Linked DNA regions of Homo sapiens. The protein of the gene in region 1 purifies or fractionates together with the protein of each later gene. This does not show direct contact. Each region holds a gene or a part of one and is shown on either strand. Other genes may lie near its edges.

Region 1 (2,745 bases):
CTTCCTGCAGCGCCCAGGACGGCCTGGCAGGCAGATCCAAGTCCCCACTCTCATCTACCCCCACCCTCCCCAGAGGAGCCCCTTTGTGACCCGGGCTGGGGTGGGGTCCAGCCAAGAGAGGAGTCACTGTAGGGTGTGAGGCCCACCCAAGTCCCTCTGCACGGACCCTCCAGGCTGGCAGGGGAGCCTCGGAGCCCCGCAGATGTAGTTTCTCATGCTTTCTCATGGGAAGCCCTCCCTGGATCCCTGTCCCTTTCCTGCTTTCCCTGCTGGCTGATATCCACCCCTTTCCAAACTGCTCTCTCGCAAGTCTTTCTGTCTGGACCTTCATTCTCTAGAGCCACAGAGGAGGCCAGAGTGGCTGCCCCCAATCCACAGGCTCTGAGGTGGCTGCCACATTCTTCCTTGGGCTCCCTGGCTAGTATCCTACCTTCTCTTGCTGCCCAAAGACTCAGATCCAGGTATCTGATACCTATATTATAGGACTGTGAGGTTCAGGCTGGGAAGAAAGGGGTATCATCCCACCTGCCCAGCCAGGAAGGAGAAAAGGGGGCCTGATGAAGAAGGGTGGTCATTGTATATTTGAAGGACACTGAGTTGTGGGGAGGGGCTCTCAGGCCCAAGGATGGAGGCAGAAAGCCAGGCCAAGCAGGGTCAAGGGCATGCCACAGGCTCTCAGGAGCGGGCCCAGCCCCATGAGCAGCAGCAGCAGTGCGTCCTGGAGGCTAAGTTGTCCTGAGACTGTACCCATTTGCAGGAGTAGAGCCTCCTGCTGTCCAGGACCTTCACCGGCCCCCTGACTCTGGCCCCTGGTGAGAAGTTTGCGCTGTGGCAGAGTGTGACCTGCGGGCCTGTGGAGAGAGAGGGTGGTGACTGGGCTTAGGGAAGTTGTCCACTGGCCCGCCCGCCTACAATGCCCACCTGCCAGGCTGCTGCCCACTTACCTATGGAGCAGGTCAAAGGTGAGGAAGCTGACCAGAAGCAGCAGCAGGGCTGGGCCAGTGGTGGAAAAGACTGCCTGGATTGTCAGTCCTAGTGCCCCCAGCCATAGGACACTGTCCAGGAGCTGGGCCCAGCTAGGGCCCCAGGTGGATACAGGTGGACGCACTGGACTACCTGACCCCTCCCCAGCACCCAGGCCCCTTGGAGGAACTGGGATCGGATCCTCACGTGCTTCGGGTCTGGGTAAGCAGAGCCGGGTCATGGAGAGAGGTGGAGGTGACGGGAAGACCTAGTGCTGAAAAGGATTATAAGGGTGAGAGTAGGGGAAGGGGTAGGGCCCGGGCAGACAGAAGGGTGAGCTCAGAGTGGGGAATTAGGCTCCTGCAGAGTCTCCCCCTCCCCCATACCCACCCAGCAAACCCTCCTCACCTCCTCCCACTTTGGTCAGCATTCTGGGAGTGGGCACCCGGGGCATTGTGACCTGTTACCACGTGGGGCCGTGGGGTAGGGAGGGGGCTGCTGCTGCTGCTGCTCTGACCTCATAAGCAGCTGGTGGCCTAGGTGGGGCTTAGCTGGGAAGTCAGGGATTTCTGAGAACTAAGACTCATCCTCTTGCCTTTGCTGATTCTCTGCCCTAGGGCCCTCCCTTGGGGATCTGAGTTGTCAGGAAGGCATTCTAACCCCATTACTACTTGGGCATCTGTCCAAGGGAGCGAGGTCTGCTTTCTTCTTCCTGTGAGTTTGCAGAGCTGCAGGTCCAGGGCGAAGTCATTCAATATCTCTGTCCCCAGCTGTCTTCCCTGTGGGTCCTTCTAGGGGATTTTTCAGGCCTGAAGTTCCAGATTGCAGAGATGGGCTCTGCCAGGGGACTGCCTGAGGCTTCTGGGGCTGGGCTTCCGCATAACCTGCTAAATGGGGGTGAGAGAGGAGGGGGCTGTTCAGGTATTCTAAGCACTACAGTTTATAGGGGGTGTTATGCATACTGGGGTTCCAGTAATGAGGTAGAGGACATGAACTTAAGAGGACTATGACCTAGTAACCCCCTTATTAGAGGTTAAGGTTACAGTCTGAGAATGGAGTTAAGGAAAATGAACATATAATGAAGGGCTTAGTCACTTGGATTATCAGTATATCAGATTACACTGATCATCTGTAAATGGGTGGTGGCCATAGGGGTCCAGCACATCTCAGTTTAGTGACTTGAGAGGCAAGAGCGGAAATGTGTCATAATTAAGAGAACTTAATCTTTGCCCACATATCATACTTTGAAGGAAAACTGGTAGGGGTGGCAAAATGGGAGACAGTGGCCATACAGCCCCTAGGAGAGGAGGAGACAGAACAAGAATCAGGCTGCATATCCACCTCCAGCAGGCCTTGCCCAGAGACGAGGGTCACCAGCCCTAATGACCATGCACTGATCGCCCTTGGTCTGGCTGTTCTTGCTTATCCAGCAGCTGGGTTTTACGAGTAGATTTGTCCGTAATGGGATAGGGTATAACAGAAGATCCCAGAATTTTTTTTTTTTTGGCATTAAGTTCCAATTGTGCTTGTAAAGGAACATTAAGGTTTAAGATTGGCAATTCCCTGAGCCTGATCAATCCTGGATGCATCCACACAATTGCATTCCTGGACATACAGACCTGGGGAGCATGTCCTGATGAGTCCACCAAGATGAGGCTACTCCATATTGCAGGGCATGGGGGGATCGGAGAGTCTAAAGCTCCTTAAAGATTTACTATGCACCAGGTGCTCTGTATGCATGTATAGGAGAGTTCTGTCTGTGATTTTCTCAGAGTTTATTTT
Region 2 (3,655 bases), on another chromosome or scaffold:
TTTGGAGGTTTCTTATTACATTTATGTCTGTTTCTTTAAATATCTCAATCTAGTTAGGTATAAAAGTAAATATTTTCTTATTTAACGTATTACTTCTTGTAGGAAACTTTGAGGGAAATTTTGAGTCACTGGACCTTGCGGAATTTGCTAAGAAGCAGCCATGGTGGCGTAAGCTGTTCGGGCAGGAATCTGGACCTTCAGCAGAAAAGTATAGCGTGGCAACCCAGCTGTTCATTGGAGGTGTCACTGGATGGTAAGTGATGTGAAAGATGTCCACTGTCTTTTGTGCATGATTTAGTATTGCAGTTATAGGTACCATCATCTCCTTTAACCAGTGAAAACACATTGGCTTCTGTGAAATTGGTCACTTAATGTGGAGCATGTATCTAAACATCATCTTAAAGTACCATTTAATGGTTACACATAATGATTGTTTCCTATATGCCAGGTTCTGTTTGAAGTATTTACATAGATATCTCATTTCCTTCTCACAACTCTGGAATTAGTACTGTTATTTTCTATCCTCATTTTATAGAAACTGAGGCTCAGAAAGGTTAGTTTGCCCAAGGCCACATAGCTGGTAACTGGTAGAATAAGGAGCTAACTACTTATTAGCTATGTCAGATGATAACTTAATGTGACACAGCTTATGGTTTCATTTGTAATAAATTCAAAAAGTAATAGCAAATTTCATAGGTGAATATTGAATCCATTAATCTCATAGACTCTTTACATTTGAAAAATTTTATAGCACCATATAGCAAATATAGAACAGCACATTTAACAGGTGTACATTTTAGCAAATACTTGGAGTGAACACCTATGTAACAACTGCTAAGGTTAAAAAAAACGTGGCTAGCGCCCTAGAAACTCGAGAGGTTATTAAGCAGTTATTTCATTGCTTTTCTTTGTAGTTTTAACACCAGTTATGTCACTAAATAACATACTGTGGTTTACCTGCTTTCCACCTTAAAGTAAATGCAATCAGTATGTATTCTTTTGAGTCTTGCTTTTTTCGCTCAACCTGATGTTTCATATATTCAACTACATTGTGTATAGTTGTAGTTTCTTCACTTTCACTTGTATTTTGAGTTCCATTATGTGAATATACCACAGTATATCCAGTTGATGACTGATATTGGAGTTGTTTCCATTTTTGGCTAATACTATGCTTATATGAGTATTAGATTTCCCAGTGTATATGTGCATACATTTCTGTAGGGTCTGTACCTAGAAATTGCTAGGTAATGGGTATAGGTATCTTCAGCTTCACTAAATAATGTCAAACCACCTTCCAAAACTGTTTTTAACAGTTTACAGTCCCAGCAAGGACCAAATGAACCTGTTGTTCTACATGGTGGCACTTGATTTTGCCAGGCTATTAAATTTTTAAAAAATTAGTTAATTTTTCCTTAGCGAGGTAATCAAGTTAAATCCAGACTATAAAAATTTTACCAGTCTGGTAGTTAGGTAGTAGTATTTCATGGTGGCTTCATTTACATTTCCCTGAGTAGGAGTGACATTGATCGACTTTTACGTATGTTTGTTGACCATTTGGATCTCCTCTTTCAGTTCCACTCTAGTTTTTTTCCTCTGAAGTTGTCATTCTTTCCCTTGTTAAGCTGTAAGAGTTCTTTATATATTCTGAATATTCTCAGTCCTTTGTTAGTTGTGTGTATTATAGATATTTTCACTCATTCTGTGGTTATCTTTTCGTTTTATGGTATCTTTTGATGAACTGAAGATCTTATTTTTAATATAGTCAATTTTATCAATCTTAACCTTAATGGTTAGTGATTTTTGTGGCTTATTTAAGTAATCTTTGCCTACCCCATGTTTCAGAACTTTTATTATTTGACCTTTCACATTTAGATTTATTATCCACCTGGAATTGTTATTGTGCTCAGTATGTGGTAGATTCCTTCTTTTCTTCCCCATGTGGAATACCCATTTGTCCCAACTTAATTTATTGTGAAAGCTATCCCTTTCCCCGCTGCTTTATGTGAGTGTGTGTGCGCATGCATATGTGTGTGTCTGCTATCTTGTTCTTTAGGAACATCTTGGCTATTTTCTTTATCTCTTAGTTTTTAAATTTAATAAATAGGTATATTATAAGTTGCACATATTTAAAGTATAAAATTTGATACATTTTTACATATGTACATGCCCATAAAACCATCACCACAGTCAAGATAATGAACATACCTATCACTTCAAAAGCTGCTTTGTACCTCTTTGTAATTCCACGCTCTTTCCTTCATGCCATCCTCCCGCCACTGATCTGCTTTCTATTACTATAGATTATGTTTTCTAGATTCTTTTTAGAAGTGGAATTACATAGTATATATTCTTTTTTGTCTGGCTTCTCTTATTCACCATAATAATATATTTTTTTGTTTTGAGACGGAGTCTTGCTCTGTTGCCCAGACTGGAGTGCAGTGGCACGATCTTGGCTCACCGCCTCCTGGGTTCAAGCAGTTCTCCTGCATCAGCCTTCACCATAATAATTTTGAGATAATCTGTGCTTTTCTGTTTATCAACAGTTCATTCCTTTTTATTGCTAAGTAGTACTCCATTGTATGGATGTACCACAATCTGTTTCTCCATCCACCTTTGATGGACATTTGAGTTTTTTTTTCACTTTTTAGCTGTTACAGATAAAACTTCAAGTTTGTATACAAGTGTACAAGTCTTTGTATGAACATATGCTTTCATTTCTTTTGGGTAAATATCTAGGAATAGTATGGCTGAGTCACGTAGTAAGTGAATGTTCTAAATTTACAAGTACCTGCCAGTTTTTAAAGTGCCTGTACCATCTTACATCTCCACCAGCAATGTGTGAGGGTTCCAGTTCCTCTGCATCCTTACTAACACTTGGTATTATCTTTTTGATTACGAACATCTTAGTGGGTATGAAGTTGTATCTCATTGTGGTTTGAATTTGCGTTTCTCTAATGACTAATGATGTTGAGCATTTTCACGGGCTTATTTTTTGCCATTCATATATCTTTGATGACTTATTTGTTCAAATCTTTTTCCACATATTTTTATTGGGTTGTTGGTTTTCTTTCACTGCTGAATCGTGAGAGTTCTTTAAATATTCTGGATAGAAGTCTTAGATATGTGATTTGCAAATATATTACTTCTCTGTAGCTTTTCATTATCTGAACTGTACCTTTCAAAGAGCAGAAGTTCTTAATCTTGAAGTGCAGCTCTTTTGTAGCTCCAGCTTTTGGTGTCATGTCTGAGAATATTTGCCTAATCCAGGGTCACCAAGATTTTCTCTCGCTTTTTCTAGATTGTATATAGGTTCGGATTTTATATTTAGTTCTGTGATCCATTTTGATTTACTTTTTGTATATAGTATAAGGTAGGAATCCAAGTTTTTTTTGCGTATGGGTATCTAGTTGTCCCCACATTTGTAAAAAAAAGACTGTCTTTTTCTCCACTGAATTGTCTTTACACCTATGTTGAAAATCAGTTGACTATATGTTTTTGAGCTCTTTGTACTGCCAAATTGATCTAGGTGCCATTATCATGCTGTTTTGATTACTGTAACTTAGGTAATGCAAGTCTTGAAATTTTGTTTTTCATCAAAGCTATTTTGAGTATTCTAGGTATTTAGCATTTCCATCTGAATTTTATCTTGTTTTTA
Region 3 (3,655 bases), on another chromosome or scaffold:
GGGCACTGCCTCAGACTGGCGCTACCCTCCTGAGAGGAGGGATGGATGTCCCGGCTGGGGTCCAGTGAGGACTTCAAGCAGTGGAAAGGAGGCTTAATTTACAGGAAGGCTTTGGCCAGCATGCTGCACCTCAACCCAGCTGGCCTGGATTCCACTGGCACCACACACTTCCCTGAAACAGCTGGACCAAGCTCACCTATCACCTTGTCTTGCCAAAACCCATCCCCAGTCTTCGCCTGGCTTCTCTCAGCCCCACTGTCCTCATGCCGCCCCACCCCACCAAGTTTCCTTGGATTCTTCTAACTCCTGCTAAATACCTGCAGAGCGAGCCTCAGGGCACAGAATGATCTCCCAGTCCTCTGTCTCTGTGGTCTAAGCTCTGTCACCAGAGGGCCTCGTCTAGCCCCAGGGCTTGATATCCTGTATCTGTTTCTAGTCCAGATGCCTGCTTATGTCTCTCTTCGCTTACCTGTCTAACAGTCATCTCTGGCTTAATGTGGCCAAAGCCAGACTCTTGCCTTCCCCTTCAAAGCCCCTCTCCCCTGTACTTTGCCATCTCAGGAACCCTGTCTGTGCGCACTGCCTCACACCTGGGCTCCTGCAGCTGCCTCCTACCTCCACACACAGTCATCCAAGGGCATGTCAGCTTTGCTCAGACCTCCAGTGGTTCCCCAACCCCCTTAGCCTGAGGTCCAGCCTTGGTGGTCTGCAAGGCCCCCTTCTAACTAGCCCAGCCTCCCAGGCCCTCTCCACCCTCATCCCCCTTCCATACCTCCCACTGTTCACTCTACTCCTACTCCTCAAACATGCCAAGCTAGTCTTGCTCAGCTTGGAATGCTCTTCCCTAGATCTTGGCATCTCACTCCTCCATCCCCGTCTCAGAACTCCCAGGTGGTGGTCTTCCCAGCCTGGGCAGCTGCACAGCCTCTCCCCAACACACACACCACATTCCCAAGTTCCTGGGACACATAAACAGGGACACCATGTTCCTTGTTTCTAAGTATTCCCACTCCTTCCATAGAAGCCCCTTGAGGCAAGGAGGAAGTCTTGTTCATAGCTGTATCCCCAGGGCCTGTCATACAGCTGGTACTCAATAAATACTTATTAGTGGCTAGCTGCAGAGTTCCTGCAGTGAGCATGGGCAGCTAAGGTTCCAAGGGAAAAAAAAGTATCCTTCTTCCAATGAGAGAATGCCAGGGACTGATCAGAGATGTCCAGAAAAATTCATCAGAATCACCTGGGGAACTTTAAGAATGCATGAATTTATAGGCTATATACCAAGACCACAATAGGTCTGAGGTAGGGCCAGAAAAAAGGACTGCAAATTGTCTCTCAAGACAACCCAACGAACAGGTAGGTCTGAGAAACTCAGATAAATCCAACACCATCATTTCATACGTGAACATATTGAGGGCCTCAGAAGGAAATGCTGGCTCACCATAGGTATGTGTTGGGAACCCCAAATCTCCCACCCAGAAGATTCTCCCTCTCACTGCCTCCACAACCTTGGAGTCTGAGAGCTTGGGCAGAAAAGCTGAGTCCTTAGGAAGAACGGGCACTCACACTCCACCTCGGCTGTGACTGCAAATCCATTTTCTTCTTAATCTAACACTTTGCACTAACACTCCATCTTCAAAAAATTAGGGCTAGGATGAGTAAAGCCAGGGTGCAGGAGAAGGACCTCTTTGCTTCCACTGGAACCGGGCCAGTTCCACCCACTGTCACCCAGCGGAGAAGGCTGCAGGACCACCTGGATGTCCCCACTTACAAGAGGGTAAAGAAGAAAGGACAGGCATCCACGTTTATAAAAGGCCTGTGTGCAAGATCTCGAGCTAGACACTTCATAGACAGCATCTTTCTCTGTTCTCCTAGCTACTGATGAGTTCAGAAGCTGTATCTCGATTTTATAGACAAGAGAGAGGCTCAGATTTTTCAAGGCTTGCTCTGAGTACCATAGATGCGATTAATGGAGCAGAGGTTTAAATCAGATCTGTCTCCAAAGTCCATTCTCTCCACTCCACCACTAGGCCTCCACCTGGCAGCCTGGTTACAGTTTATATGTGTGATGGGTGGAGGCTCCTTCCCGGGAGGTACTTATTCCCAAGCACCTGGGGGTGAGAGGTGTAGAGGGATAGAAGGCCAGAGCCTAAGGGACAATCTAGGGTCAGCAACAACTCAAAGCACGACTGTGGGATGTTCCTTCAGCCCAGGGTTTCCTGGTCTATCAGACAGGGATGAAGCAATACACCCTGCTTCAAAGTCCTGCTTCAGGGATGGAACACGATTCTGCCACAACTGCCACGCAAATGTTATGACTGCCAACCTGCCAAAAGCTGTCAATACAGGCGGCAGTGATCGCCTTGGCTGACTTTGCAACCAGGCTGCTGGGCCTGGGGATGTGGCCACATGGGATGTAGATAGAGGCAACTTCTTGAGACATGATCAGGACACGGACAAGTCTGACTCCTCACCCAGCATACTAGGCCTCTCACCCACTGCCTCTGTTCCTCCAGCAAGACTTGCTAGCCCCTCCCTCTGGTTCCCTCTTTTACCCTCCCCCAACCTGGCCAGGGACCCTCCCTAGTACTCCCAAGTCAGAGAGTACTAGTGCATGCCTTCTACCTTGGCATTGCTCCCACTCTCTGCACTGTGCATTTTTTTCTTTCTGTTTGTTTTTTAATCCTCCCACCTCAGCCTCCCGAATAGCTGGGACTGCAGGAGCGGGCCACCATGCCCGGCTAATTTTGTTTACTTATATTTGTAGAGATGGTGTCTTGTTATGTTGCCCATGCTGGTCTTGAACTCCTGAGCTCAAGCGATCTGCCCACTTTGGCCTCCCAAAGTACTGGGATTACAGGCGTGAGACACCACACCTGGCCCGCACTCCCATTTCTTGAGTGTGTAAATCACAACTATACCACTCTGAATCACCAGCACTTAACTCCACAGGGTACATACACAGATGGCCCCAAATCAGCATCTGATGGAGATACCAGCCATGAATATGGCCAACTTCCAAGCCCTCTGCCCAGCTTTGGGCTCCCAAGGCTGATGTGATGGTCATCTGGGTTTCCACTTGCCCCTTAGCGCTCAACAACTGGAGCTCAGGTAGAGACACAGTTTCTTGTAAGTCAGGCTGAAGGGAGCAAGTCCTCCAGAGATGCACCGTCGAATAAGGCAATCACGAGTCAAGTGTGGCTGTTTAAATGTAAACTAACTAAAATTAAATGTCGCAGTAGCCATATTTCTTTTTTTTTTTTTTTTTTTGAGACAGGGTCTCACACTGTTGCCCGGGCTGGGGTGCAGTGACGTGATCTCAGCTCATTGCAACCTCTGCCCCTACCAGGCTGAAGCAATTCTCCCTGCTCAGTCTCCCAAGTAGCTGGAACTATAAGTGCACGACACCATTCCAGGTTAATTTTTTGTATTTTTTGTGGAGATGGGGATTTGTCATATTGCCCAGGCTGGTCTCAAACTCCTGGACTCAAGTGATCTTCCTGCCTCCACCTCCCAAAATGCTGGGATTATAACAAGCTTGTCCAACCCGCAGACCAAGGCCCAGGACCACTTCAAATGCAGCCCAACACAAATTCGTAAACTTTCCTAAAACATTATGAGATATTTTTTGTGATTTTTTTTTTAAAGCTCATCAGCT

What was found.
Region 2: the proteins of C20orf141 (region 1) and FUNDC2 purify together in Homo sapiens (affinity purification with mass spectrometry; one large-scale study listed by BioGRID and IntAct). This does not show direct contact.
Region 3: the proteins of C20orf141 (region 1) and CCDC12 purify together in Homo sapiens (affinity purification with mass spectrometry; one large-scale study listed by BioGRID and IntAct). This does not show direct contact.

The regions. Positions count from the first base shown.
Region 1 is NC_000020.11:2,813,644-2,816,388, reverse strand, and holds C20orf141 (uncharacterized protein C20orf141), read right to left. Parts: upstream 1,403-2,745; 5' UTR 1,372-1,402; exon of another isoform or gene 1,238-1,371; 5' UTR 1,205-1,237; coding exon 945-1,204; intron 852-944; coding exon 614-851; 3' UTR 559-613; downstream 1-558. Other genes in the region: TMEM239 (transmembrane protein 239), read right to left, coding at 1-54.
Region 2 is NC_000023.11:155,033,301-155,036,955, forward strand, and holds part of FUNDC2 (FUN14 domain-containing protein 2), read left to right. Parts: intron 1-102; coding exon 103-253; intron 254-3,655. UniProt on the Homo sapiens protein: Binds directly and specifically 1,2-Diacyl-sn-glycero-3-phospho-(1'-myo-inositol-3',4',5'-bisphosphate) (PIP3) leading to the recruitment of PIP3 to mitochondria and may play a role in the regulation of the platelet activation via AKT/GSK3B/cGMP signaling pathways.
Region 3 is NC_000003.12:46,966,654-46,970,308, forward strand, and holds part of CCDC12 (coiled-coil domain-containing protein 12), read right to left. Parts: intron 1-3,655.